7 linked regions of the Homo sapiens genome follow. The protein of the gene in region 1 purifies or fractionates together with the protein of each later gene. This does not show direct contact. Each region holds a gene or a part of one and is shown in the gene's direction. Other genes may lie near its edges. The genes, in order: SNX21, ZNG1A, MADD, TANGO6, DDX11, MELK and EIF2A.

Region 1 (3,947 bases):
GGAGCTACTTTGGAGAGATTTTGATTTTATTTATTGTATTGTATAACTATCAAAATCTGCCCTAACAACTGATACCTAGGCTTTGTGACAGGAAGCCACAATAACTTTTTCTTGACCTGCAGCTGCCCTGCGGATAAAAGATAAAACAAAGCTGGGGAGCCACTGAGATTATCAGGCCTGCTGCACAGGAAAAGGGCAGTATGCAGCAGGGGACCTGGGCTCCAGGCCCCATACTCAGAAACCTCTGAGGGAGGCAGAGGCAGGTGGATCACTTGAGCCCAGGAATTCGAGACCAGCCTGGGCAACATGGCCAAATCCCATCTCTACAAAAAATACAAAAATTAGCTGGGTGTGGTGGCGAACGCCTCTATTCCTAGCTACTGGGGAGGCTGAGGTGGGAGGGATGACCTGAGCCCAGGGAGGCGGAGGTTGCAGTAAGCAGAGATGGTGCCACTGCACTCCAGCCTAGGTGACAGAGTGAGACTCCATCTCAAAAGAGAAAGAAAGAAAGAAAGAGAGAGAGAGAAAGAAAGAAAGAGAGAGAGAGAAAGAAAGAAAGAAACCTCTGGCAAGCTGTGTGGTTAAGCCAAGTAACTCACCCTCTCTGGTCCTCAGTTTCCCTGTTTGCCTACTTCCCATGTGTGAGGTTCAAATCAGATTGTGCAAGCCTGTGAACACTGTAGAAACAATAATCATTATGTAAGTGATCATTTCGTCAGCCTTTGCTCTATGCCAGGCACGGGACGAGCGTTCTTACAAGAGCTGCAAAATTAGTTTTAGCAGTATTGTTCCTGTTTTACATATGAGAAAACCTAGGCTCAGCGAGGTCAGATTCCAACCAACCCAAATCACGCATCTTCTCCTGGCCCTTCGTTTTCTCTCGGGAGACATGGCCTCCCTACTATTGCATAATTACTTTGTGAAGTTAAAGAGCGTTGGGTGGAAATGAGTGGGACAGATTGGAGATGACGTGGGTGGGGTGGGAGGATTCAAGGAGGGTACGCGCCTGGCCGGACTGGGATGACTCTGCGGCAGGCCTGGGACTCCCTCAGGCCGACCCAGGCTTCCCAAGTCCCTCCTGGAGCCAAGGGCCCGGGATTCTCGGGCGGCTCGGGCGAGCGGGCGGGGCAGGAGGCGGGGCGGCGGCAGGAAGCTGCCCGAGCGGCGCTCTGAGCGGCCTGAGCCCGGCGGAGCCCTGCAGAACCCGGCCGACCTCCATGGGCTGCGGGGGGCTGCACCCGGACCCCTGGGGCGCGGCGCGCCCCTGAATGCACCGTGGGACGCAGGAGGTAGAGGCGCACGAGGCGGCGCAAGAGACATCGGGAGGGTCCTGAGCCCCTCCGGGGAGGAACGCGGTCCTAGGCTGAGTGGGTTGGGGGGAAAGCGATGCTGGCTGGGTCCCCTGGTTCGCAAGACCTCGGACTGCCAGGGGGTGGGGCCTCACCGCGCCCCTCCCTCTCCGGTTCGGGCCCCGCCCCTCCTCCTCCTGCGCCGGGCTGGGGTACCCCTCCTCCGGGATCCGGTACACAGCGTCGCGCGCTCCCCCCAGGGTGCCATGGCCTCCCGGCTCCTGCACCGGCTGCGGCACGCCTTGGCCGGCGACGGCCCCGGGGAGGCGGCGGCCAGTCCAGAGGCCGAGCAGTTTCCGGAGAGCTCAGAGCTGGAGGACGACGACGCCGAGGGCCTGTCCTCCCGACTCAGCGGCACCCTCAGCTTCACCAGCGCCGAGGACGACGAGGACGACGAGGACGAGGACGACGAGGAGGCTGGCCCTGACCAGCTGCCCCTCGGGGATGGGACGTCAGGAGAAGACGCAGGCGAGTGCAGGAGGACGGAGGCGGGAACCCTGGGGCTCGATTAGGCCTCCATCCCAGCCGCGTTCCCAGAGCATCCAGGGCGCTAAGTTGATCCAGCTGAAACTCCCACACTTCTTAAAGCGCCTGGGCCACCTCTTGGCTGTGTGACCTTGAGAGAGTCTTAACCCCCCTCTGAGCCAAGTTTTCCCTTGTGTCAAGTGGGAGAACTCACTCTCATCTCAGAATTGCTGCAGGCATTAAATGTACAGGGCTTGGGATCCGAATGGAAATGATGTATTAACGATATTTTGAGGGTGGAGCTATTAATTTAGCCCCTACTGTCTGCCAGGCACGGTGTTTGGCTCCTCGGTGCCTCTCTGTCCCTCAGTTTCCATTTCTGTAAAAAGGGGGTAAGTCCTGCCTCACACTGGGAGGATGAGTGAGGCCACGTCAGTGGTTGATGTCGACCCTGGCCCTAGGCCCATTGATATGACTGGTCATGTGTCTGCAGAACGGAGCCCCCCACCTGATGGGCAGTGGGGCAGTCAGCTCCTGGCGCGGCAGCTGCAGGATTTCTGGAAGAAGTCCCGGAACACCTTGGCACCCCAGCGGCTGCTCTTCGAAGTGACCAGCGCTAACGTTGTCAAGGACCCGCCCTCCAAGTACGTGGTGAGTGAGGGTCTAGAACCCCTGGGCTGTGAGTCCAGAAGTATGGCTAGGAGCAAGTAGGGAAGACCCCAACTTCCTGAGGGGTCTATGTAGTTATAAATGGTTACCTTGTTTACAAATGGGGAAACTGAGGTCAGAAAGGGGATGTAACTTGAGCAAATCCTCACACAAGACTTAGTTTCCTTGAGACTGACTGAAGTGGGGATTAAGGACCTTCCTCTTAACCTGGTTTTGAGACTAAGAGAACTGGTGTGTGCACTTCCCCACCCAGCCCACAAGGTTTTTGCAAATTGTAGCAAGATGTGAGATACAGAGAGACAGATGTTATCTGGGTCAAACTTGAGATCCAAGTTGCATGGGCTGGTAGTTAAGGAAATAGGCTTTCGATCCAGACCAATCTTGACTCCCACTTATTTCCAGTTGTTTGACTCTGGGTGAGTTGTTTAACCTTGGTCATCTTCCGTTTCCTCATTATAGCAATGGGGAAAATGCAGAAGATTACAGCAGGAGTTAAATGAGACAATGGACAAAAAGCCCTTAGCAGTGTGCCTGGCATTATGACGTGGTCAATGAAATGGTAGCTATGTCATCATTATTTAACTTTGGGTTGAAAATGTTTGTCATCTAGGGCCTGCTGTGTCCTTATAACGCACAGGTCAATCAGTTCTCAAGCACCCGACCTTGTCCCTAAGGGCTAGACTTAGAGGGTTGGTGGAGGTTAGGATGAAGAGCAATGTTGGGGAGGACCTTGGAGTCCCTTGCTGTTTTCCTTGCTGTTGAGAGACTGACTTGGAGAATGAGGTCTGCTCCTTTAATGCCCACAGCGACTCCTGCTCCAGTCCCTTTTCAGGCCAGGCCTGAAAGCCAGCTGAGCTGGCCACTCCTGTCAGTGGCAGCTCTCCATCTCTCACTCCCCTCCTCTTCACCACCCTTCTCCACCTCTGACTCAGCAGGAGGGGGCCTGGAGCCCAGTCCCACATCTGGGCCTCTCCACCCTTTTCTGTTGCTGTTAGTAAGCAAGGGCCACACCCATGGGGTGACTACTCCAATTTCAGCAGGGACCGACTCCGATTATTGAGTCTTTTAAAAAAATTTTTGAGGCCGGGCGTGGTGGCTCACGCCTGTAATCCCAGCACTTTGGGAAGCCGAGGCGGGCGGATCACGAGGTCACGAGACCATCCTGGATAACACGGTGAAACCCCGTCTCTACTAAAAATACAAAAAAATAGCCGGGCATGGTGGCAGGCGCCTGTAGTCCCAGTTACTTGGGAGGCTGAGGCAGGAGAATGGCGTGAACCCAGGAGGCAGAGTTTGCAGTGAGCCGAGATCGAGCCACTGCAGTCCGGCCTGGGCAACAGAGCGAGACTCCGTCTCAAAAAAAAAAAAAAAAAAAAAAAAAAATTTTGAGACAGGGTCTCGTTCTGTCACTCAGGCTGGAGTGCAGTGGTGCAGTCATAACTCACTACAACCTCCAACTGGGCT
Region 2 (3,360 bases), on another chromosome or scaffold:
AATTATATCAAGCACTCTGTCAGACCACAGTGGAATAAAACTGGAAATCAACTCCAAAAGGAACCTTCAAAACCATGCCGATACATGGAATAACCTGCTCCTGAATGATCAGTGGGTCAAAGATGAAATCAAGATGGAAATGTAACAATTCCTCAAACTGAACGACAAGAGTGACCCAACCTGTCAGCCTCTGGGACACAGCAGAGGCGGTGCTAAGAGGAAGGTTCACGGCCCTGAGCGCCTCCATCAAAAAGTCGGAAAGAGCACAGACAATCCACGGTCACACCTCAAGGAACTAGAGAAACAAGAACAAACCCAGCAGAAGAAAGGAGATCAGAGCGGAATTAAATGAAATTGAAACAAAACAACAAAAAAAATCCAAAAGATAAATGAAACAAAAAGCTGGTTCTTTGAAAAGATAAATAAAATTGATAGACCGTTAGCAAGATCAGCCAAGAAAAGAGAGAAAATCCAAATAAGCTCAATAAGAAATGAAACGGGAGATATTACAACTGACACCACAGAAATACAAAAGATATTCAAGGCTACCATGAACACCTTTACATGCATAAACTAGAAAACCTAAAATAGATGGAGAAATTCCTGGAAAGATACAACCCTCCTAGCTTAAATCAGGAAGAATTACCCTGAACAGACCAGTAACAAGCAGGGAGATTGAAATGGTAATTAAAAAATTACCAACAAAAAAATGTCCAGGACTAGACGGATTCACAACAGAATTCCACCAGATATTCAAAGAAGACTTGGTACCAGTCTTAAAGACACTATTCCACAAGAGAGAGAAAGAAGGAATCCTCCCTAAATCATTCTATGAAGCCAGTATCACCCTAATACCAAAACCAGGAAAGGACATAACCAAAGAAGAAAACTACAGACCAATATCCTTGAACATAGATGCTAAAATCCTTAAGAAAATTCTAGCTAACTGATTCCAACAACATATCAAAAAGATAATCCACCATGATCAAGGGGTTTCATACCAGGGATGCAGGGATGGTTTAACATACACATGCGCGTAGCCAAAGCAAGACTAAGCAAAAAGAACAAATCTGAAGGCATCACATTACCTGATTTCAAACTTATACTATAAGGCCATAGTCACCAAAACAGCATGGTACGGTTATAAAAATAGTCACATGGACCAATGGAACAGAATAGAGAACCCAGAAATAAATACTTACAGCCAACTGATCTTCAACAAAGCAAACAAAAACATAAAGTGGAAAAAGGATACCCTTTTCAACAAATGGTGCTGGGATAATTGGCTAGCCACATGTAGGAGAATGAAACTGGATCCTCCTCTCTCACTGTATACAAAAATCAACCCAAGATAAATTAAAGACTTAAATCTAAGACCTGAAACTATAAAAATTCTAAAAGATACCATTGGAAAAATCATTCTAGACATTGGCTTAGGCAAGGATTTCATGAACCCAAAAGCAAATGCAATAAAAACAAAGATAAATAGCTGGGACTTAATTAAACTAAAGAACTTTTGCACAGCAAAAGGAACAGTCAGCAGAGTAAACAGACAACCCACAGAGAAGGAGAAAATCTTTCATAATATATACATCTGAAAAAGAACAAATATCCAGAATCTACAATGAACTCCAACAAATCAGCAAGAAAAGCAGTCCCATCAAAAAGTGGGCTAAGGACATGAATAGACAATTCTTAAAAGAAGATATACAAATGGCCAATAAACATATGGAAAAATGCTCAACATCACTAATGATCAGGGAAATGCAAATCAAAACCACAGTGCGATACCACCTTACTTCTGCAAGAATGGCCATAATAAAAAAATCAAAAAAATAGTAGATGTTGGCATGGATGTGGTGAACACGGAACACTTCTACACTGCTGGTGGGAATGTAAACTAGTACAACCACTATGGAAAACTGTGGAGATTCCTTAAAGAACTAAAAGTAGAACTACCATTTGGTCCAGCAATCCCACTACTAGGTATCCACCCAGAGGAAAAGAAGTCATTATACGAAAAAGATACGTGCACACGCATGTTTATAGCAGCACAATTGGCAATTGCAAAAACGTGGAACCAACCCAAAGGCCCATCAATCAATGCGTGGATAAAGTAACTGTGATATATATGCATACAATGGAATACTCCTCAGCCATAAAAAGGAGTGAATTAATGGCATTCGCAGTGACCTGGATAAGATTGGAGACTATTATTCTAAGTGAAAGAACTCAGGAATGGAAAACCAAACATCGCTATGTTCTCACTCATAAGTGGGAGCTAAGCTATGAGGATGCAAAGGCATAAGAATGACACAATGAACTTTGGGGACTCAGGGAGAAAGGGTGGGAAGGGGATGAGGAATAAAAGACAAAAATTGGGTGCAGTGTATACTGCTCAGGTGATGGGTGTACCAAAATCTCACAAATCACCACTAAAGAAGTTAACCAACACCACCTGTTCCCCAGTAACCTATGGAAAGAAAGAAATGTCTCATATGTTTCTGCCTAAATTGGTCTTTAATACTTTAGCGATTCTCTTGAGTTTGGATTATAAAATAGTTTTGGTCTTTTTGTATTTTCTGCTGTAAGCCTGTATGATTATGTAATGGTGAGTAAAATTGCTAGGCCAGATATGCAGTTCTAGGAAGTTATGCAAAGATGTGCTTTAGTATATTATTTTCTACCTTTTTAAATTCATTTTGAGCTTGGCTTTTGAGCCTCTATTTTCCAAGGTGGGGTGTATGTTTTTATAATGTTATGCTTAGCCCTTGTGTATTTTCATCTCTGAGTTTGAAATTTGGGGTTATATTGGCAAAGGGAGGTTTGGGTTTTAATTAGGTGACCTGTTAGAGGAAATGTTAAGCTTCTGTTTCTTTAGGGTAGACAGTGAGAGATTTATCAAGATAAAGAAGAAAAATAAATCCTAAAGTTAATATTCAATACATGATGATGTCCCCCTTACTAAAGCCAAAGAGGGCATTATCCTATCATTCTCATCGCTAAGAACTCTTCTCCTCTTGGCACATGCTTATTCAGTTAAAGATAAGCCAAGCCTTTCTTTTGTATTTTTTTTTAAGAGAACAGATTTACTTTGGTTTTGAGTTTTATTCCTGGCTCTGGGTAGCTTATTTTTTTGACCCTTATTTTCCCCAATTTATAAAATGAAATAGTTATCTTCACTCCCCAGGATTGTTGTGAAGAGTAAGTCAAAAGATAAAATGAGGTGACTCAGGCAAAAGTACCTGGCCCTGTGTAGTGAGTACATTGTATGTGTTACATATATTCTTATTGCTGAGAATCCACGAAAGAATGAATTAAATAATGAGGACCCCTTCATCAGGGTTTTTGAGTGAGTTT
Region 3 (3,500 bases), on another chromosome or scaffold:
ACCCCAAAGACCTTAGGACCATCCCAGAGAGGGGTCTACCTAAGTGCTTTTCTGGACCACAAAGGTGTCAGTACTTCTTGGGGAGCAGACTTCTGACCACATTTTAGCGCCGTGGCCTCTGAAGATGAGATCTTGCTGAGCAACGCCCAGGTGCTCTGCCCTGTTCCTCGTCCTGCCCTTGGCATAGCCCCACTGGGCAGCCATCCAAGCCAGTCTGTGGTTGAAGGCTTGGCCCCTAGAAGATAGACTGCAGAGAAGGGGAGGAAAGCCCGGGTTCTCAATCTCACCTCACAGTTAGTAATGAGATAGCGACCTGCCCCCTATTCTGCCACACAGTGTTCAGTTGGAGTGGAGGAGGCAGCAGACCTCCTGGTGGAGCTGTGCAGTCTGGGGTAAATGGGAAAAGCACAGGCTTCGGTGTGAGGACATGCTTGGATTTGAAGCCCAGCTTCCACGTTCATGGGCAAAGAAACTTTCTGATCCATAGTTTCCTCATGTAGAAAATGGGGGTAATACTATTTACTGTGTCACGTAGTAGGTGCAGAGATTAGAAATCGTATTTGTAAAACCCCAAGTAGGTGCTCAGCAAGTGGTAGCTGATATTATTATCACCACATACCTCTTGGGAGATCCTGGATCCTGTTTCAAGGAGGATACCAACACCTCCCACCCTGAGGACAGTCTGAGGGGAGCTTTGCGCCCGTGCCAGCCCTCTGCGCCGGAGGAGGATGCATGGAAGGGTAGAGACCTAATGGGCTGAGTGGGGACCCCTGGGGCACTGTGTCTTACAAGCACTGCCCTGGGCAGAGGGTACGGGCGGGCAGCCCAGGCCAGCAGCAGGGCCTTCGGGTTGGGTTTGACCATTCAAACTAACGCCTTCATTTCTCTCCCATGCTTTCTCCTCCGGCCAGGAGCGGAAGGTACATGCCCTTTCTGCTATCTTCGCTTCTTAGCGCTTTTGAGTTGTGTGCGTGTGGATTCTTCTGTCCTCTCTTTGGGAAATAGACTTTCTTTGTGTGGGTGGGGCTGTAGCTGGGAGAGTGTGCTGTGTGGGGCAGGGGTGGAGCCTGTGGGCCTTACCCCGGCCTCCCTCCCTCTCTTGCAGGTTTTCATAGAGCTGAATCACATTAAAAAGTGCAATACAGTTCGAGGCGTCTTTGTCCTGGAGGAATTTGGTAATTACACTATTTTGCTCTTAGGTCTGGACTCACATGGCAGTAACTCAAACCTCGGAGCTCCAGAGGAGGGTCTAGGGGCAGGGAGAAGAAGAACCTCTGTAGAGAAGTCAGGAGGAGCAGGAGTGACAAGGAAGAAAAGGGACCCCTGAGATGAGAGCCGGGATGTGGAAGGGAAAGATAGATAATGGATCGCAGAAGAGCAAATGGGGCCTCAGGTGGGTTTCGAGTTTAGAGGTGGTCCTGAAGCAGCTCAGTGAAGTAGCACCACCTCCCCGTGCTGGGCCAGCCAGTGGTCAGAAAGTTTGGGACACAGCAGACTGGCGACCCCCAAGCTCCACTATGTCCATGTCACCTGCTGCAATCTCTCTAGCAGCCCAGTGCGCTAGCCAGCCTCCCTGGCGCCGCTCTGGTCTCCACCTGGCCTCTGTGCCAGACAAAGGGGCACCGGGCGTCGCAGGCAGACTCACTTGAGGGACAGAGGAGTCTAGCGGGACAGCTGTAGCCGGAAGCTGGGAGCCAGCGCTAGGGAGTGGTGTAGTGGGTTCTCACCCTGGGGCTTTGAGTTCCTGCTGTGTTTGTGCTTCATTCTTTTGTGCCCCTCATCGCTGCTATGAAAACCTTCGTTCTCCAGCAGGTAAAGTGACCTCGGCTCGTGCTGCCTCTCCCCAGGTCTCTGCCTTGGGCCCTGCCCTGGGTGGGTAGCTCCCATCGAACCAGCTCCTCACACTGCCAGCTCGTCTCTTCCTTTCTCCCCTACCCTCTTTCTTCCTACCTTGCCTCCCCCTTCTCACCGGCTCACTGGACTTTCCTCCCCGTGTGTTCCCTTCTCTCTTCTGTCAGAGAGATACTTGGGGGAATCTTCCAACTCGGGAGAATGGCCTGGGGCTTCTTGCTCTACCTTTGATGAGTTTATTCCCTGCTGACCCTGGGTTCCCCCAAATTCTACCTCCCAGGGTCAGAAGAAGGTACGGCCAATTCTCCTCCTGCCTTTTCTGGCCCCCAGGGAGATGCCAGGCCCCTCTGCTCCCAGTCTCAAGGGGCCATGATGGTGGCTGAGCCTGGGGGGCCTACTCCTTCCTCTGGCCAAGCAGAACCCCTGCATGGCTGGAGCGGGGGGACTCTCACTCTTGCCTTCTGGGCTGTGGACATGTGTGTATTTTGCCTGATGCTCCCTGTCACCTCCCTCCCTGGGTGCTGTACTCGCCTGTCTTCTGCTGGGTGTGTTGCTCCAGAGCCCTCAGACGCTCTCCCTCACACAGGCAGGTCTGGGCTTCTCCTGCCACTCAGGGAAGGACACTGCCACATCCTGTGGGTTTATATCATGTTACCTCTTCATCCAGCCTCAAGACCCTCTGTGTAGGGGGCTGGGAATAACGGGAACTGTGTTTAACATGACCCAATTTTCAGGCTGGTGACGAGTTCACGGGTGTCTCAGCAAAGTTGGACACAAGCTAGAGAGAGCTCTCTCCTCCCAGCCAAAACCTGGGAATTCCCCACTGCAGCTCCTCAGGGGCCCTGGACAGTAGCTGTGACCAGGCTGGTGAAAGGCCCGTCCCTCCCATCCAGGGCTTTCAAAGAAGTGGGTAGAATCACGGCCATCAAGTAAACGCCACTGCGGATGACAGAGGCCTAGCTGAGGAGGCTAGGGCCATGTCCTCCCAGCTGGCAGAGTCTGGACAGAGCCTCTGGTGGCCTCTGCCCTGTCATAGCCTAAGCTGCTGCAGCCACTGTGAGAGGCCACAGAGGGGAAGGGGACCCTGACGCCGGGCGCTGCCGCCTGGGGGAGCATGGCACGATTGCTCTTAGTGTTGAACTTTCTGTTTTGTCTCTTGCCCGTCCGGTTTTAGTTCCTGAAATTAAAGAAGTGGTGAGCCACAAGTACAAGACACCAATGGTGAGTGTGCCGCTCAACCCTGATGGGCCACGGTGCGCAGGGCTCCCTGGGGGACCTTCGGACAGGAGGAGGGGAGGGCCCTCTGAGCGCACAGGGGTGAGTGGGGACCTCGTTTTGTTGCCAAAGGTTCAACTCAGGCTGAAACAGGTCTTGAGCCCTGAGAGACAGACACACACACACGGATCCCCTCTCCCATGGGGACAGCTTCCTTGCTTGGAGCTCACGTTTAGCCCAGAGGCCCATGCCCAGTGTTAGGGCAGGAGTTGCCCATTGGCAGATCCTTCACATATGGAGATGGAGGAGTCTCAGTATCGTGATCCGCCTGGTTTTCTCTCCTCTAGGCCCACGAAATCTGCTACTCCGTATTATGTCTCTTCTCGTACGTGGCTGCAGTTCATAGCAGTGAGGAAGATCTCAGAACCCCGCCC
Region 4 (3,500 bases), on another chromosome or scaffold:
AAAAGGCAAGGCTGCCAGGCATGGTGGCTCACGCCTGTAATCCCACCCAGCACTTTGGGAGGCTGAGATGGGTGGATCACTTCAGGTCAGGAGTTCAAGACCAGCCTGGCCAACATGGTGAAACCCTGTCTCTACTAAAAATACAAAAATTAGCCGGGCGTGGTGGCACGTGCCTGTAATCCCAGCTACTCGGGAGGCTGAGGCACAAGAATCGCTTGAACCCAGGAGGCGGAGGTTGGCAGTGAGCTGAGATAGAGCCACTGCACTCAAGCCTGGGCAACAGAGCGAGACTCTTTCTCAAAAAAGAAAAAAGAAAAAAAGGCAAAACATGGCCTCAGTGTCAATAGTACTTACCATCTAGAGAGGAAAACCTTTTAAAGTACACAATAAATATTTATTTTATTTTTTATTTGTTTATTTTTTATACCACCAGCCTGCCCCACAACAAATATTTACATTACAGTCCTGATAGGGGCTACAAACAGAACTCCGGGAAGGGCAGGAAGACTTACCTAGGTGCGGGGGTTAGGGAAAGAATCCCGGAGGCCAAGGGTATAAGAGTCCTAGGAAGAGGAAGCAAAATATTAATAGCCTCCCAGGCTGAGGGACTAGCATATGCAAAGGCCTTGAGAGGAGCTTTGTTCAGGCAAGAAAAGAAAGAAGGCCGGCACAGCTGGAGCACAGGCGGCCAGAGGGAGGCCCGCTGTGGGGAAGGGTCGGCCTGGGGAGCTTGTTCTATGTAGCCCTTTCCCCTGACTTCCTGCCTTCACTCCCCAGTGTCCATGCTGATCAGGAATATCGAAAGATGGAAAGGCTCTTGCTCTCTTCTTATAGCAAGTCCAAGACACGTGGTGCTAGACACAGTCTACTTGGTGGAATGCTCAGGGGACTCTGGGCCCAGACCATGTGCTTGTTACCCGCTGAATTAACTATTTCCCATCATTTCCATTCGCCATCTCCAGTGAACTTTCCTATTCCTAAAATGTGGCCTCTCTTTTCTCTGATGTCTCATCACTCTCTCTCTGCTCCCTGTGACCTTTACCATGTTCTATTCTGTATTGTCTGTCTTTACGTGACTATCTTCTTATTCATCCCCACTAGACCAGAAGCCTTTTAAAGGCAAGATCTAGATGTTTCCATTGTTAAATGGCCTTACAAAGTCTTTGCGTAGAGTTGACTAAGTTAAATATACGTTTCTGTATTTTATTTTATTTTTATTTTTATTTTTTGAGACAGAGTCTTGCTCTGTCACGCATGCTGGAGTGCAGTGGCGCAATCTTGGCTCACTGCAACCTCCAGCTCCTTGGTTCCAGTGATTCTCCCATCTCAGCCTCCTATCTCAGCCTGGCATTACAGGCATGCACCACCACGCCCAGCTAATTTGTGTATTTTTAGTAGAGACAGGGTTTTGCCATGTTCGCCAGGCTGGTCTCGAACTCCTGAGCTCAGGTGATCTGCCCGTCTCGGCTACTGCACTCCAGCCTGGGAGACTTGGTCTCAAAAATAAAATATAGGCTGGGTGCAGTGGCTCATGCCTGTAATCCCAGCACTTTGGGAGGCCAAGGTGGGCGGATCACCTGAGGTCAGGATTGCAAAACCAGCCTGACCAACATGGCAAAACCCTGTCTCTATTTTTTAAAAAATTCAAAATTAGCTGGGCATGGTGGCGCATGCCTGTAATCCCACCTACTCCGGAGGCTGAGGCAAGAGAATCGCTTGAACCCGGGAGGCGGAGGTTGCAGTGAGCCGAGATCGCACATTGCACTCCAGCCTGGGCAACAAGAGCAAAACTGTCTCAAAAACAAATAAATAAATAAATAAATAAATATAAAAGAAAATAAAGAAACCGCATAGTATAATGGCTAAAATTATAGGCCCTATTTCTTTTAAGCAAAACACAAAATCCAGAAACCACAAAGGAAAACATTTGATAAATTTAACTACATCAAAAATGGAAATTTCTTCACCAGAATAAAAAATTTCACAAAGAAAAAATGCCAACTGGGAGAAAAATATTTGCAACTCATATGACAGATAATGGACTTAAAAAAAAATGGAGTTTTTACGAATCATTAAGGAGAAGCTGAATTATACATACCAGAAAAAAATACAAATTTATGTTTATATATTTGTTGGAAGTATGCAAATTCATAACAGCAAAATGCTATTTTTTTCTACTGGATTAGCAAAAATAAGGAGTTTACAATACATGGCACTGATAAGAATATGGGGAAACAGGAATTTTCACAGTGTTTGAGGAAAATGTAAATTCTTGGAACCTCTCTGGCCATATCTATCAAAATTGTAATGCGCATTACCCTTTGAGCCAGAAATTCCATTTCTAGATATTTGTCCTACAGATATACTTGTACATGTCTGTAATGACCTAAGTATCAGAATGCATATTGCACTGGGCACAGTGGCTTATGCCTCTAATCTTGACTACTCAGGAGGCTGAGGTGGGAGAATCACTTGAGGCCAGGAGTTCAAGACCAGCCTGCGCAATATAGCAGGACCCCATCTTCAAAAAAATGTTTATTGCAGCAATATTTGCAATAGCAAAAGATAAAAAGAATTTAAATTACTTTCATTGGAAAGATGGTTAAATAAATTGCATTACATTCATCCTCTGCAGCTATAAAAAATAAGTTATTTCCATATGTGCCAATTATACAAAGGATCTACAAAACATGTTAAGTGGGGGAAAAAATATGGTACACAACAGAGCGTAGAATATAATTTTGTACTTTAAAAAGGTAAGGGAAGGCTGGGCTTGGTGGCTCATGCCTGTAATCCCTACCTCTGAGGTGGGAGGGTTGCTTGAGCCCAGGATTTCAAGACCAGCCTGGGCAACATAGCAAAAAAATAAAAATGCCAAGCATGGTGGTGTATGCCTGTAGTCCCAGCTAACTTGGGAGGCTGAGATGGAGGATTGCTGGAGCCCAGGAGATTGAGGCTGCAGTGAGCTATGATTGCACTACTGTACTTTAGCCTGGACAACAGAGTGAGACCCTGTCTAAAAAAACTGGGGGAGAGGGGACAAGAAACAGAAATATACACATGTGTGCTTGTAAACACTTAGAAAATGTCTTCATATGAATGATGTCCTCTGAGAAGGGAAACAGCTAGGAGTCTGGAGTAGAACAGAGCCTTACCTTTTAATATGTACTCTTTTGTACTGTATTATCTTTTCAATAAAAATAAAAAATAAGAACACAGGCTCTGGATGTTGGAAACCTGGCTCCATCATTTTTTTAGCTGAGTAACCTCAACCCTCTAACCCTCTGTTTCTGCAAATATAAGATGGGGCTAATAACCTTCCTCTAGGCCGGGCGCGGTGGCTCACGCCTATAATCCCAGCACTTTGGGAGGCCGAGGCGGGCAGATCATGAGGTCAGGAGATCGAGACCATCCTGGCTAACACGGTGAAACCCTGTCTCTACTAAAAATACAAAAAATTAGCCAGGCGTGGTGGTGGGCACCTGTAGTCCCAGCTACTC
Region 5 (3,500 bases), on another chromosome or scaffold:
AACTGAGGAAAGCTGCCAGGCCCCATGGTGTCCCAGGCCTTCCCTCCCGTCTGTTTGCCTTTAGAGCAAGATTAGTGCTATAGGCATTTATACACAAATACCATAATATGGCCCAAAATCTTTACAATTTTTGAATTTTTAAAGTACTTTGACCATATTTTGCTTTTATGTTAATAGTATTCCAGTGAAATTCTGTGCATGGGGACACTGGAGCCCAGAAAAGTTAAGTGACTCATATTTTCTCACCAAGCGTGGGTGATGGAGCCATTCAGTTTTCCGATATTTTATTTTTTATATGAGTATTCCTTTAACTGGAAACTTTCCTAACAACAAACACCTAAAGATGTGCAGAGTTGCTTTTATTTTTGTTACCCCAGCTCCACGCCTTAACCCTCACTTTGAAATAGGATGTATCAACCCTATTTTGCAGATGAGGAAAGCAAGAGTCAGAGAGGTTAGACAACTCTTCCAGAGTCACACAGCTGGGGAGTAGCAGCTCCAGGAGTAGAAGCTGGGGCCGCTTCCTGGTGCACCGATGGTCTGCAGGTGTTTGTGGAAACTCGGGGGCCTCCGGGGCGACCTTGAGGACATGGACAAGGCTAAGCAGGGGTTCCCTTCACCCAGCCCTGCCCTTGGTTTACTCAGGAGTCAGACCAGCCCTAGTTTCCTGTGTTTCATGTATTGGCTTTTCATGTGAAACTCGAGGAGAGCTTGTCCGTTGCCACAAGCTGTTTTTCGAATGTCTCTACACAGTCCAGGCAGGAAATAGAAGCACTCACATCAGGAGCTCAGTGTCAGGCAGGCAAGGCTCCTGCAGGGGAGCCCCGCCCTGCTCAGGTGGCCTCATCTCCCCTCCCAGCTGGTGGTGCTGCCCTATCAGATGCTGCTGCATGCGGCCACTCGGCAGGCCGCGGGCATCCGGCTGCAGGACCAGGTGGTGATCATCGACGAGGCGCACAACCTGATCGACACCATCACGGGCATGCACAGCGTGGAGGTCAGCGGCTCCCAGGTGTGTGGGCCTCCCCTCCCCGGGCCAGGGCCTGCTGTGACGTAAAGGGACTTGGATGGTTCCTCCAGACACCTGGGCCAAGAGTTCCTCCGGAGGTGGGGCTTGATAGAGGGTGCACGAGTCAAGGCGGTGACCTCATCGGAGGCTGACCATGGCTTTCCAGTGCATCGGGGGACCCCGCTATGACAGAGTGCCTCATTTCCCTGCACCTCATCTGCCCCCATGCTCCTGAGTCCCTCCAGCCCTGGATGCCAGCAGCCAGTTCTGTAAGCCAGGGAGATGGCATGTGTGAGGCAGAAGTCCCCTCAGGATTGGATTTTGTCATTACTGAAGTTGTCTGGAGGGGACTGAATTGAGGAATGCTCAAGATCAGCGCAGGCTCCTCCTGCTGCCCTATCATGCGCCATGCATGGCACCAGGTGTCTCTGGTCTTCACGCTGACTCTGCCATGGGTGTGGTGTTCCTGTTTTACATTGGAAACTTGGAGATTCAAAGATGGTCAAGCTCTGTCCTGAGGTCATGCAGCTCATGAGTGTGGAGCTGGGGTGTGCCCACTGGTTTCTGACTGTGAAAACCCCCACGACATCCCACCAGCTCTACTGACCTGTGCCTGGGCTGAATTGAGGCTGGGATGTGATGGTGGCCTTGAACCATCACTCTTTGTAGACTCCAGGTCTTTTCCCAACCCGGTGGAAACTTAGCAGGGAGATTCCATACTTGAGGAATTCAGCCTCTTGCTTTTTCTCTGACCCACAGTGGACACTGGAGGAAAACTTCCCTTCCTTCCCTTTTCTCTTAGCTCCCACCAGCCTAAGGGCTGTGGAAACCCGTACCTTTTGTCTGCAGCCAGCCCCCTCTCCTCCCTTTGGTGGCTTCCTGTGTGTCCAGGGCCAGCATCTTCTAGGTGAATCTAAGATGTCAGTACCTTAGCCCTCAGCTGCTTGCTCAGAGCCTGGTTTGTGTTCTTTCCCCAGCTCTGCCAGGCCCATTCCCAGCTGCTGCAGTACGTGGAGCGATACGGGTGAGATGTGACCCTCTGAGGTAGTGGGACAGTCCCTTGGTGGCCCCCTGCGTGGGCCTCTGAGAGGCAGGCAGCACTTTGGTTCCCACCTCTGGCCCGGGCTGTGGCGGGGTGGAGCTGCATGCCATTCATGTCCTAGGCACATCATGGTGTGTGCTGCACACAGACCTGGAAGGCTGGGGACTGACCGCTGGCTCTGAGGCCTGGGGCCGTGGCCAGCCTGCTCTCTGGGAAAGGATTTGTAGCTTGTGACCCAGTTTGAGAGGCACCGGGCAGCAAGGCTTCCACTGGGGTGGGCGGGGCGAGTCGCCATCAGGGCACCACCACTTAATGTCCGTTGGCTTCTTCTCAGGAAGCGTTTGAAGGCCAAGAACCTGATGTACCTGAAGCAGATCCTGTATTTGCTGGAGAAATTCGTGGCTGTGCTAGGGGGTGAGAGCCTCGTCCCCCTGCTGACCCCGGGCCTGCAAAACTCGCTGGGCTGCTTTTTCCTTGGATGCCCATCAGGACACCTCAGTTCTCTGTGTTTTTAAGAAGGGTCGGCCGGGTGCGGTGGCTCACGCCTGTAATCCCAGCACTTGGGAGGCCGAGGCAGGTGGTTCACCTGAGGTTAGGAGTTTTGAGACCAGCCTGGCCAACATGGTGAAATCCCATCTCTACTAAAAATACAAAAAAATTAGCTGGGAGTGTTGCCGTGGCCTGTAGTCCCAGCTGCTCCAGAGGCTGAGACAAGAGAATTGCTTGCTCAAACCCGGGAGGCGGAGGTTGCAGTGAGCCGAGATTGTGCCACTGCAGTCCAGTCTGGGCGACAGAGTGAGAATCAGTCTCAAAAAAAAAAAAAAAAAAAAAAAAGAAGGGTCTTGGTCATTGATTTAGAAAATTCTTGTTCTTTGTAGCTTAGTTGAGTTGTCTGACTTGAGCTTTATTTAGACCCATGGGTTCTTTGCCCATGTTCTGAGGACTTTTTATTTCAGGCCCTGCTCTGGGGGGATATTAAGGATACAGCATCACATAGACACACGGTGTTTCCGTGATAGGCATAGTTCTGTGGGTTGTTCGAAGCACTTGCATATGCGGTTTTGTGTGCCCTGTGAGAACGCAGTGCTGGTATTTGAATCCTTGTTGATAGACGCATAAACTAGAGCTCGGAGCAAGGGCTGCTCCCAGCACGGGAGCCTGGGATCTTCTGACTCCAGCTCCCACGCCTCTTTGCATGACCCTGTCACGTCCCCTTCTTTTATGATGGGGCACCCCCTTGGAAGGCGTCTGTGGAAGTGGAAGCTGCAGAAAGCCTGTGGGAGCTCCTGGCGGGAGCTGGTCTCGTGTTGCTGCTCTGAGCCACCAGCTCTGCTTTGCCTCAGGCTCACCAGTGGCCTGGGCAGCTCCTCTGTGCTCCGGTGCCCTGCATACCTTGGTCTGGCTGCTGTGTCCCGGCCTCCTGGAGAAGGGGTGAAAAACATGAACTTA
Region 6 (3,500 bases), on another chromosome or scaffold:
GTGTGTGTGTGTGATGGTGTGTGTGTGGGGGGGTGCGGTGGCGCTGCCTGTGGTTGTTATGAGAATTCAGTGAGATAGCCTCTACCCTGCAATGGTAGCTGCTATTGCATTCTTTCCCAATGAAAGGGTCTCTTTCTGTTCTGTTGTTTCTCTTACTGTAAATACAGTACCCTTTGTGACTCATGAGATTGGGCAGGGAGATAAAACGGACCTCAGCTCACCTTAGCTCATTCAACGATCTTTTTTTTCCCCTTTTTTTCTTTTTTTTTTAATTTCTTTGAGTTGGAGTCTTGCTCTGTTGCCCAGGCTGGAGTGCAGTGGTGCGATCTCGGCTCACTGCAACCTCTGCCTCCTGGGTTCAAGCGATTCTCCTGCCTCAGCCTCCCTAGTAGCTGGGATTACAGGCGCCTGCTACCACGCTCAGCTAATTTTCGTATTTTTAGTGAAGACAGGGCTTCACCATATTGGTCAGGCTGGTCTCAAACTCCTGACCTCAGGTGATCTGCCCTCTTCAGCCTCCCAAATTTCTGGGATTATAGGCGTGGGCCATTGTGCCCGGCCCAGGGCTTTTTTATTTAAAAAAAATTTTAATGCCATAATCCCTTCCATTATTGACATTTTTTACTTTTTGTGTAACTCTGAAGGTTTTGCAATATGGGTAGTTTGGAATTTATTTTATAATCTTGAAATATTATCAGTTGACATATGTTGTCATGACGAGAAAGATTGTGTTGGTCAAAGCTATTATTGGTTGTTTCTTTTTAAACACGAGCCACTTAAGGAAGCAAGTGGCTGAAGCCATGATTGTTAGCTTCCACTGGCACTTTGCATTTTTCTTTCTTTTCTTTTTTCTCTTCTCTCCTCTTCTCTTCTCTTTTCTTCTTTTTTTTGAGACAGAGTTTCACTCTTGTTGCCCAGGCTGGAGTGCAGTGGCATGATCTTGCCTCACTGCAACCTTCGCCTCCCAGGTTCAAGAGATTCTCCTGCCTCAGCCTCCTGAGTAGCTGGGATTACAGGTGCGCACCACCATGCCCGGTTAATTTTTTGTATTTTTAGTAGAGATGGGGTTTCAACATGTTGGGCAGGCTGCTCTCGAAACTCTTGACCTCAGGTGATCCACCTGCCTCGGCCTCCCAAAGTGCTGGGATTACGGGGGTGAGCCCACCATGCCCAGACCTGCATTTTACTTTCATTGTGAGTTATTTTTGACATAAACATAAATTTCATTTTCGTCACTCCTACACAATGCAGGCATTGGCAGTTTGTTGAAGGGCAGTTCTGTATGGTGATAGATACTGTCTGTATACAAAGATGAAAACTGTTTTTATAAATATTTCTGATTGCTCTTATTTTCTTGTTCTTGTGGAAAGTGAGAATGTAGCCAAATAGTCATAAACAAAACCAAGCCCCTAATCTCTTTTAAAATTTTGATATTATATCTTTGTTTTTATAGTGTGAATATTATCTCTAAAGGGTATAAAACTTTTAGATCATGAGCTAATCAGTATAACCAGATTCGTTAGTACAAATTTGTCATAAACTATCTGGAATGCAAATACCCTACTTAGAATAAAACACAAAATTCTGGAACAGGGAATATAAAAAATAATCAAAGCTTACATCTCTTTTTTTTTCCGAGATGAAGTCTTGCTCTGTCTCCCAGGCTGGAGTGCAATGGCGCGATCTCGGCTCACTGCAACATCTGCCTACTGGGTTCAAGGGATTCTTCTGCCTCAGCCTCCCAAGTGGCTGGGATTACAGGCGTGCGCCACCACGCCCAGCTAATTTTTTTGTATCTTTAGTAGAGATGGCATTTGACCATGTTGGCCAGGCTGGTCTCGAACTCCTGACCTCATGATCCGCCCTCCTCGGCCTCCCAAGGTGCTGGGATTACAGGCATGAGCCACTGTGCCTGGCCAAAGCTTACATCTCTTTAATAACTTATGTCAAGCTTTCACAGGGGTCTGTTCTTTTTGCCTAACATGAGTTGAATCGGGCTATGAATTCAATTAACACCTTTTAATACTAGATCAATTAAAAGCATAAATTGGGCCCTTGTATAAATACAGATTGACTTTTATTTTTAGAAAAAGAATCAGTAATTATGAGATTTGTATTTATATGATCTGTTTAGATTTATCATATGATGTTTATAATAAAATTAAAAGCATGGCCTAAATTTGCAGTGAAGAAAAAAAAGAAGAGCCACACATACAAAGCAAAATGATTTTGTTTTTATTATAAATCACATGGAAACATTTCTTGAAAGAATTAGAGCCTTCGACATCACAGGTCAAGTGATTATACTGTTTCTGAGTCAATGAATAATGTGATACCTGCATTATTATTAATAATAGAAATTTCAGAACCATAGTATGTGCTGCATATGGATTGTGTTTGTTCTGTTTCTAATAGCTAGAAACCAGTGCCTGAAAGAAACTCCAATTAAAATACCAGTAAATTCAACAGGAACAGACAAGTTAATGACAGGTGTCATTAGCCCTGAGAGGCGGTAAGTGTTTGGTTTTTTTAGACTCTAATCTTTAGTATATGTAACCAGATTTCCTTTTTCATGTATTAATAGACCTGATTAAGGTAAATCATCACATAGATTCTGTTGGAGAGTAGGAATATCTGTTTATGTGTGGATGACCTGTGGCCATTCCTGGACCTGTAGCCACTGCCTTCCTCATGGGGTAGAATCATGAAACTGATCAGCAGTAGGACGGCACCTTAAGTACAACAGGCTGGGAAGACAGTGGTCCTCACCCCAGCCAACTAGTTACCTCTCTGAGGCCCATCTTACCCTTCTCTTCTGCCAGTAAAATACAGATATCCTCTAACAGATTGTAGTCCTCCCAAATCGTAAAGATACTGTTGTTTCAAAGAAAATCCTCTGTATGAAAAGTTCTGCAGCATAGGTAACTCTTCAAGTTGCTATTCTTTTATAGCAATTTCTTAAAGGCATTGTCTATTTTCAAGACAATTGGAGAATTAGAATGTGGACAGGGTATTAGATGATATTATGGAATTATTATTAATTTATTGATGAAGAAACTGAGGAGATCAGGAATAAAATGATTTATCAAAGCTATATAGTACAAAGCTGGAGCCAGAACCCAGGTCTTCTCATTCCTAATCTTATGGTTTTTCTCCCACAGTCTGGAAGTGCTGGAGAACTACCTAGAAAGCCAACTAACACCACAGTAGTTTCTATTGAAAAATGCATTCAGGTTCCAAAATATTTACATAACTGACCATTTTTAGAACATTATCCGTTAGTATTTGGTAACTGCTTAGCTTCTCAATAATGTGTATATATGTGGTTGAACTAGTTTCCTTAATTTTATTTAACATTTTTCAGTGCAATGGTACTATGGTTTTTTTAAATCTCAGTGTCAGTGCTTGAAATACTTAACTATCTCCAACCAGAAAAATTTCAGAACAAAAGGATAAAATATGCCTAATAAACAGCCATATGTAACGTAAACTTCTCAGCA
Region 7 (3,500 bases), on another chromosome or scaffold:
CACTCCAGCCTGGGCAAAAAGATGAGACTCCGTCTCAAAAAAAAAAAAAAAAAAAATTGGGAAACTAAAATAAGTGATTCTAGCTTTATATCAGGTTGGTGGCATAACCATGTGAAGACCTGCAAAATTCTTTTTTTTTGAGACTGAGTTTTGCCCTTGTTGCCCAGGCTAGAGTGCAGTGGTGCAATCTCGGCTTAATGCAACCTCTGCCCCCCAGGTTCAAGCGATTCTCCTGCCTCAGCCTCCCAAGTAGGTGGGATTACAGGTGCCTGCCACCATGCCTGGCTAATTTTTTTGTATTTGTAGTAGTGACAGAGTTTCACCGTGTTGGCCAGGCTAGTCTCAAACTCCTGACCTCAGGTGATCCACCTGTCTCATCCTCCCAAAGTGCTGGGATTACAGACGTGAGCCACCATGCCTGGCCTAATAGTTTTCTTTTTAACTGAAAGTTGATATTGTCATTTGAATCTACTATAGGATAGAGTAAATTAATTGTATTAATGTTGTTAGGCACCAAGATTTTTCAGCATTAGAGTGAAAAGATAGACTTGCCTATATCAGTATGAACTCATGATTTCCTTTCATAAAACATTTGCATTTCCTAGTTCTGGCCAATGAAAAGGCCTGGAAGCAGTGATAACACAGTAGCAGTGAATACCCCATCCTCACAGATTGTGATCTCTAAATACAATTCTTCACTAAAAGGAACCACTTCCTTGGAGAAGTGGTCAACTCTAGGTCTGGGACAGAAAATGTACAAGTTGAGGTAGCAACTTTTGTGCCAGAAAGCAAAGCTATAAAAGACTAATGAGATTTTGTTAAAGGGTCGTAGGAAGCAACTTGAAGAGATTCACACCAACCTAAGATGGGAACATTAAGAATTATGAATAGAAAGATAAAGCATGTCAAGTATATAAATGCTCCCCCGAAAAATCCCCCCTCCGTTTAAACCTAACTGGTCAGCATTGGTGGTTGATGGAGTCCTCACTCATTACTTTGAAAATTGATAAATAAAGGGAAGGAGTCAAGCATTTATCTTGCCTTTCTTATACAAACTGTTTCTCAGAGTAACCAAGTGGTTGATGAGAAAAAGAATTTTATAGACGAATTCCAGTTAATAAATGGAGAATGGATGCTGGATCAGACAATTACCATTTTGTAATCCTCAAGAAATGGATCTAGGCCACTGGTTCTCAAACTTTACCAAGCATCAGAATCATCTGAAAAGCTCGTTAAAATCCAGATTGCAGCTCTCTTTCCAAATGTTCGGATTCATTAGATCAGCGGTAGGGCCCAATAATTTGCATTTTTAACAAATTCCCCAGTGATACTGATGCTGCAAATCTGGGGACCCCCCTTTAAGAACCACTGATCTAGGCAGATGATCATCAAAAGATGCTGAAACCTTTAGCTGAACTGTTTGATGACTGTTAATGGGGAACTTTATAATCAGGCTGTTGTCATCTGACTCTACTGACCAATTTTTATTAGGCCCAGTTCTCTAGAACCTTGCTACAGGAAGCATGGGCCCAACCAAGACCAACTATATTGGCATCACTCCTGAGCCAGTACAGAAATGCATCTCAGGCCCTACCCAACTTACTGAATCAGAATCTGTATTTTAGCTAGATCTTCAGATGATTTATATGCACTTTTTTTTTTCCAGAGTCTTGCTCTGCTGCCCAGGCTAGAATGGAGTGGTGTAATCATGGCCCACTGTAGCCTCAATCTCCCAGGCTCAAACAATACTCCTGCCTCAGTATCCCAAGTAGCTGGGACTATAGGCGCATGCCACCATGCCTGGCTAATTTTTGTATGTTTTGTAGAGATGGGGGTCTCACTATGTTGCCCAGGCTGCTCTCCAACTCCTGGGCTCAAGAGATCCAACCGCCTTGGCCTCCCAAAGTGCTGGGATTACAGGCCTCAGCCACCATGCCTGGCCTGTATGCACATTATTTATTTATTTACTTATTTATTTATTTTTTTTGAGATGGAGTTTCACTCTTGTTGCCCAGGCTGGAGTGCAATGGTACAATCTCGGCTCACTGCAACCTCTGCTTCCTGGGTTCAAGCGATTCTCCTGCCTCAGCCTCCCAAGTAGCTGGGATTATAGGCACCTGCTACCACACCTGGCTAAATTTTTTTATTTTTAGTAGAGACGTGGTTTCACCATGTTGGCCAGGCTGGTCTCGAACTTCTGACCTCAGGTGATTCACCCTCCTTGGCCTCCCAAAGTGCTGGGATTACAGGTGTGAGCCACCACACCCGGCCATGTATGCACATTAATGTTTGAGAAGCACTACTCTAGAAAACCCAGTCTGGCTGGGCGCGGTGGCTCATGCCTGTAATCCCAGCGCTTTGGGAGGCCAAGGTGGGTGGATCACTTGAGCCCAGGAGTTCAGGATGAGCCTGGGCAGTATGGCAAAACCCCATATCTATTTAAAAAACAAAAAACAAAAAAAAAACTATGGCAAAGTTATGTGCTACACTTCATTAGGGTATGCAGTCCCAAGGCTGCAGGAGTAGGGGAGAAAGGGAAATGAGACAGGGAAGGAGTTAAAGCAAGTATGATGGGATATACTGAGGTGACCACAAATCCACAAAATATAGCCAACTTGCTTGGTCATGTGTGCAAAATTTTTGTCTCCAGAAAGGCTGTATGGAACATTTGTACTTCAGAACAGTCTGTTGTGTGGAGACAGGGTAAGAAGTTTACTACAGCCTCTTAGCCTGTTTGGGTTGAATCTGAGTGCCAGAGCTCCTCCATGTGCTGCCGCAGTGCATGGTGGAAGCCATGTGGAAGTATGGCCCTTAACTCTGCAGATTCAAAGACAACCAGTGGCGTTAGGAGATGAGGTCTCTTCATTGAATAGTTGAGGCGTGGCAGCAGGAAGAGTTAGGTAGATACAAGGAGGCACATGACTGAATCCAGTACAATCTCAGTATCACTAAGAGTAGAACAGAGAGATATTTATGTGTCTCCTGGTGAGTTATTATACAGTAGGAACTGTGCTGTACATATCTTCTACGAAAGTTAAAAAAACTTCAAACTCAGAATTTAGTCAGTCTTTTACATGAGTAGTTCTCAAATGTGGCTGCACAATAGAATGACCTGGGGAGCTGTTAAAAAACCCAGATATCCAATCCAAGTATTGGGTATTAAATGATATTAAGAAGTTAATTTTGTGAGATGAAGTGGCATGGTGGTGATTATGTTTTTAAAAAAATATACTCACTGGTTAGAGATGCATAATCAAGTATAGAGCAATATGATAATGACATCTAGTTTTTGCGTTGGAATGTTGTGGCATGAAAGATAAAAGTGGGGAATAGATAAAATTGGCTCTGAGTTAATAGTTACTTAAGCTTGATGATGAGTGCATAGGTGGATTATCATACTTTTTCTCTATTTTTTGTGTATGTTTGAAATTTTTCATTCAAAAAATTATACCAGAAGGAAAGAGGCAAAATTTCCCAATTGCCAAGACCAAGAAAATAAT

The links.
Region 2: the proteins of SNX21 (region 1) and ZNG1A purify together in Homo sapiens (affinity purification with mass spectrometry; 2 studies listed by BioGRID and IntAct, with this or other methods). This does not show direct contact.
Region 3: the proteins of SNX21 (region 1) and MADD purify together in Homo sapiens (co-immunoprecipitation; 3 studies listed by BioGRID and IntAct, with this or other methods). This does not show direct contact.
Region 4: the proteins of SNX21 (region 1) and TANGO6 purify together in Homo sapiens (affinity purification with mass spectrometry; one large-scale study listed by BioGRID and IntAct). This does not show direct contact.
Region 5: the proteins of SNX21 (region 1) and DDX11 purify together in Homo sapiens (affinity purification with mass spectrometry; 2 studies listed by BioGRID and IntAct, with this or other methods). This does not show direct contact.
Region 6: the proteins of SNX21 (region 1) and MELK purify together in Homo sapiens (affinity purification with mass spectrometry; 2 studies listed by BioGRID and IntAct, with this or other methods). This does not show direct contact.
Region 7: the proteins of SNX21 (region 1) and EIF2A purify together in Homo sapiens (affinity purification with mass spectrometry; 2 studies listed by BioGRID and IntAct, with this or other methods). This does not show direct contact.

What each region holds. Positions count from the first base shown.
Region 1 is NC_000020.11:45,832,652-45,836,598, forward strand, and holds the start of SNX21 (sorting nexin-21), read left to right. Parts: upstream 1-1,147; 5' UTR 1,148-1,268; coding exon 1,269-1,289; intron 1,290-1,549; coding exon 1,550-1,817; intron 1,818-2,307; coding exon 2,308-2,465; intron 2,466-2,526; exon of another isoform or gene 2,527-2,942; coding exon of another isoform or gene 2,943-3,026; exon of another isoform or gene 3,027-3,039; coding exon of another isoform or gene 3,040-3,042; exon of another isoform or gene 3,043-3,947. UniProt on the Homo sapiens protein: Binds to membranes enriched in phosphatidylinositol 3-phosphate (PtdIns(P3)) and phosphatidylinositol 4,5-bisphosphate. May be involved in several stages of intracellular trafficking.
Region 2 is NC_000009.12:123,697-127,056, reverse strand, and holds part of ZNG1A (zinc-regulated GTPase metalloprotein activator 1A), read left to right. Parts: intron 1-3,360. UniProt on the Homo sapiens protein: Zinc chaperone that directly transfers zinc cofactor to target metalloproteins, thereby activating them.
Region 3 is NC_000011.10:47,325,633-47,329,132, forward strand, and holds part of MADD (MAP kinase-activating death domain protein), read left to right. Parts: intron 1-911; coding exon 912-920; intron 921-1,105; coding exon 1,106-1,175; intron 1,176-3,025; coding exon 3,026-3,072; intron 3,073-3,413; coding exon 3,414-3,500. UniProt on the Homo sapiens protein: Guanyl-nucleotide exchange factor that regulates small GTPases of the Rab family. Converts GDP-bound inactive form of RAB27A and RAB27B to the GTP-bound active forms.
Region 4 is NC_000016.10:69,077,531-69,081,030, forward strand, and holds part of TANGO6 (transport and Golgi organization protein 6 homolog), read left to right. Parts: intron 1-3,500.
Region 5 is NC_000012.12:31,090,860-31,094,359, forward strand, and holds part of DDX11 (ATP-dependent DNA helicase DDX11), read left to right. Parts: intron 1-859; coding exon 860-1,012; intron 1,013-1,986; coding exon 1,987-2,033; intron 2,034-2,385; coding exon 2,386-2,465; intron 2,466-3,500. UniProt on the Homo sapiens protein: DNA-dependent ATPase and ATP-dependent DNA helicase that participates in various functions in genomic stability, including DNA replication, DNA repair and heterochromatin organization as well as in ribosomal RNA synthesis.
Region 6 is NC_000009.12:36,666,895-36,670,394, forward strand, and holds part of MELK (maternal embryonic leucine zipper kinase), read left to right. Parts: intron 1-2,415; coding exon 2,416-2,512; intron 2,513-3,500. UniProt on the Homo sapiens protein: Serine/threonine-protein kinase involved in various processes such as cell cycle regulation, self-renewal of stem cells, apoptosis and splicing regulation. Has a broad substrate specificity; phosphorylates BCL2L14, CDC25B, MAP3K5/ASK1 and ZNF622.
Region 7 is NC_000003.12:150,553,287-150,556,786, forward strand, and holds part of EIF2A (eukaryotic translation initiation factor 2A), read left to right. Parts: intron 1-3,500. UniProt on the Homo sapiens protein: Functions in the early steps of protein synthesis of a small number of specific mRNAs. Acts by directing the binding of methionyl-tRNAi to 40S ribosomal subunits.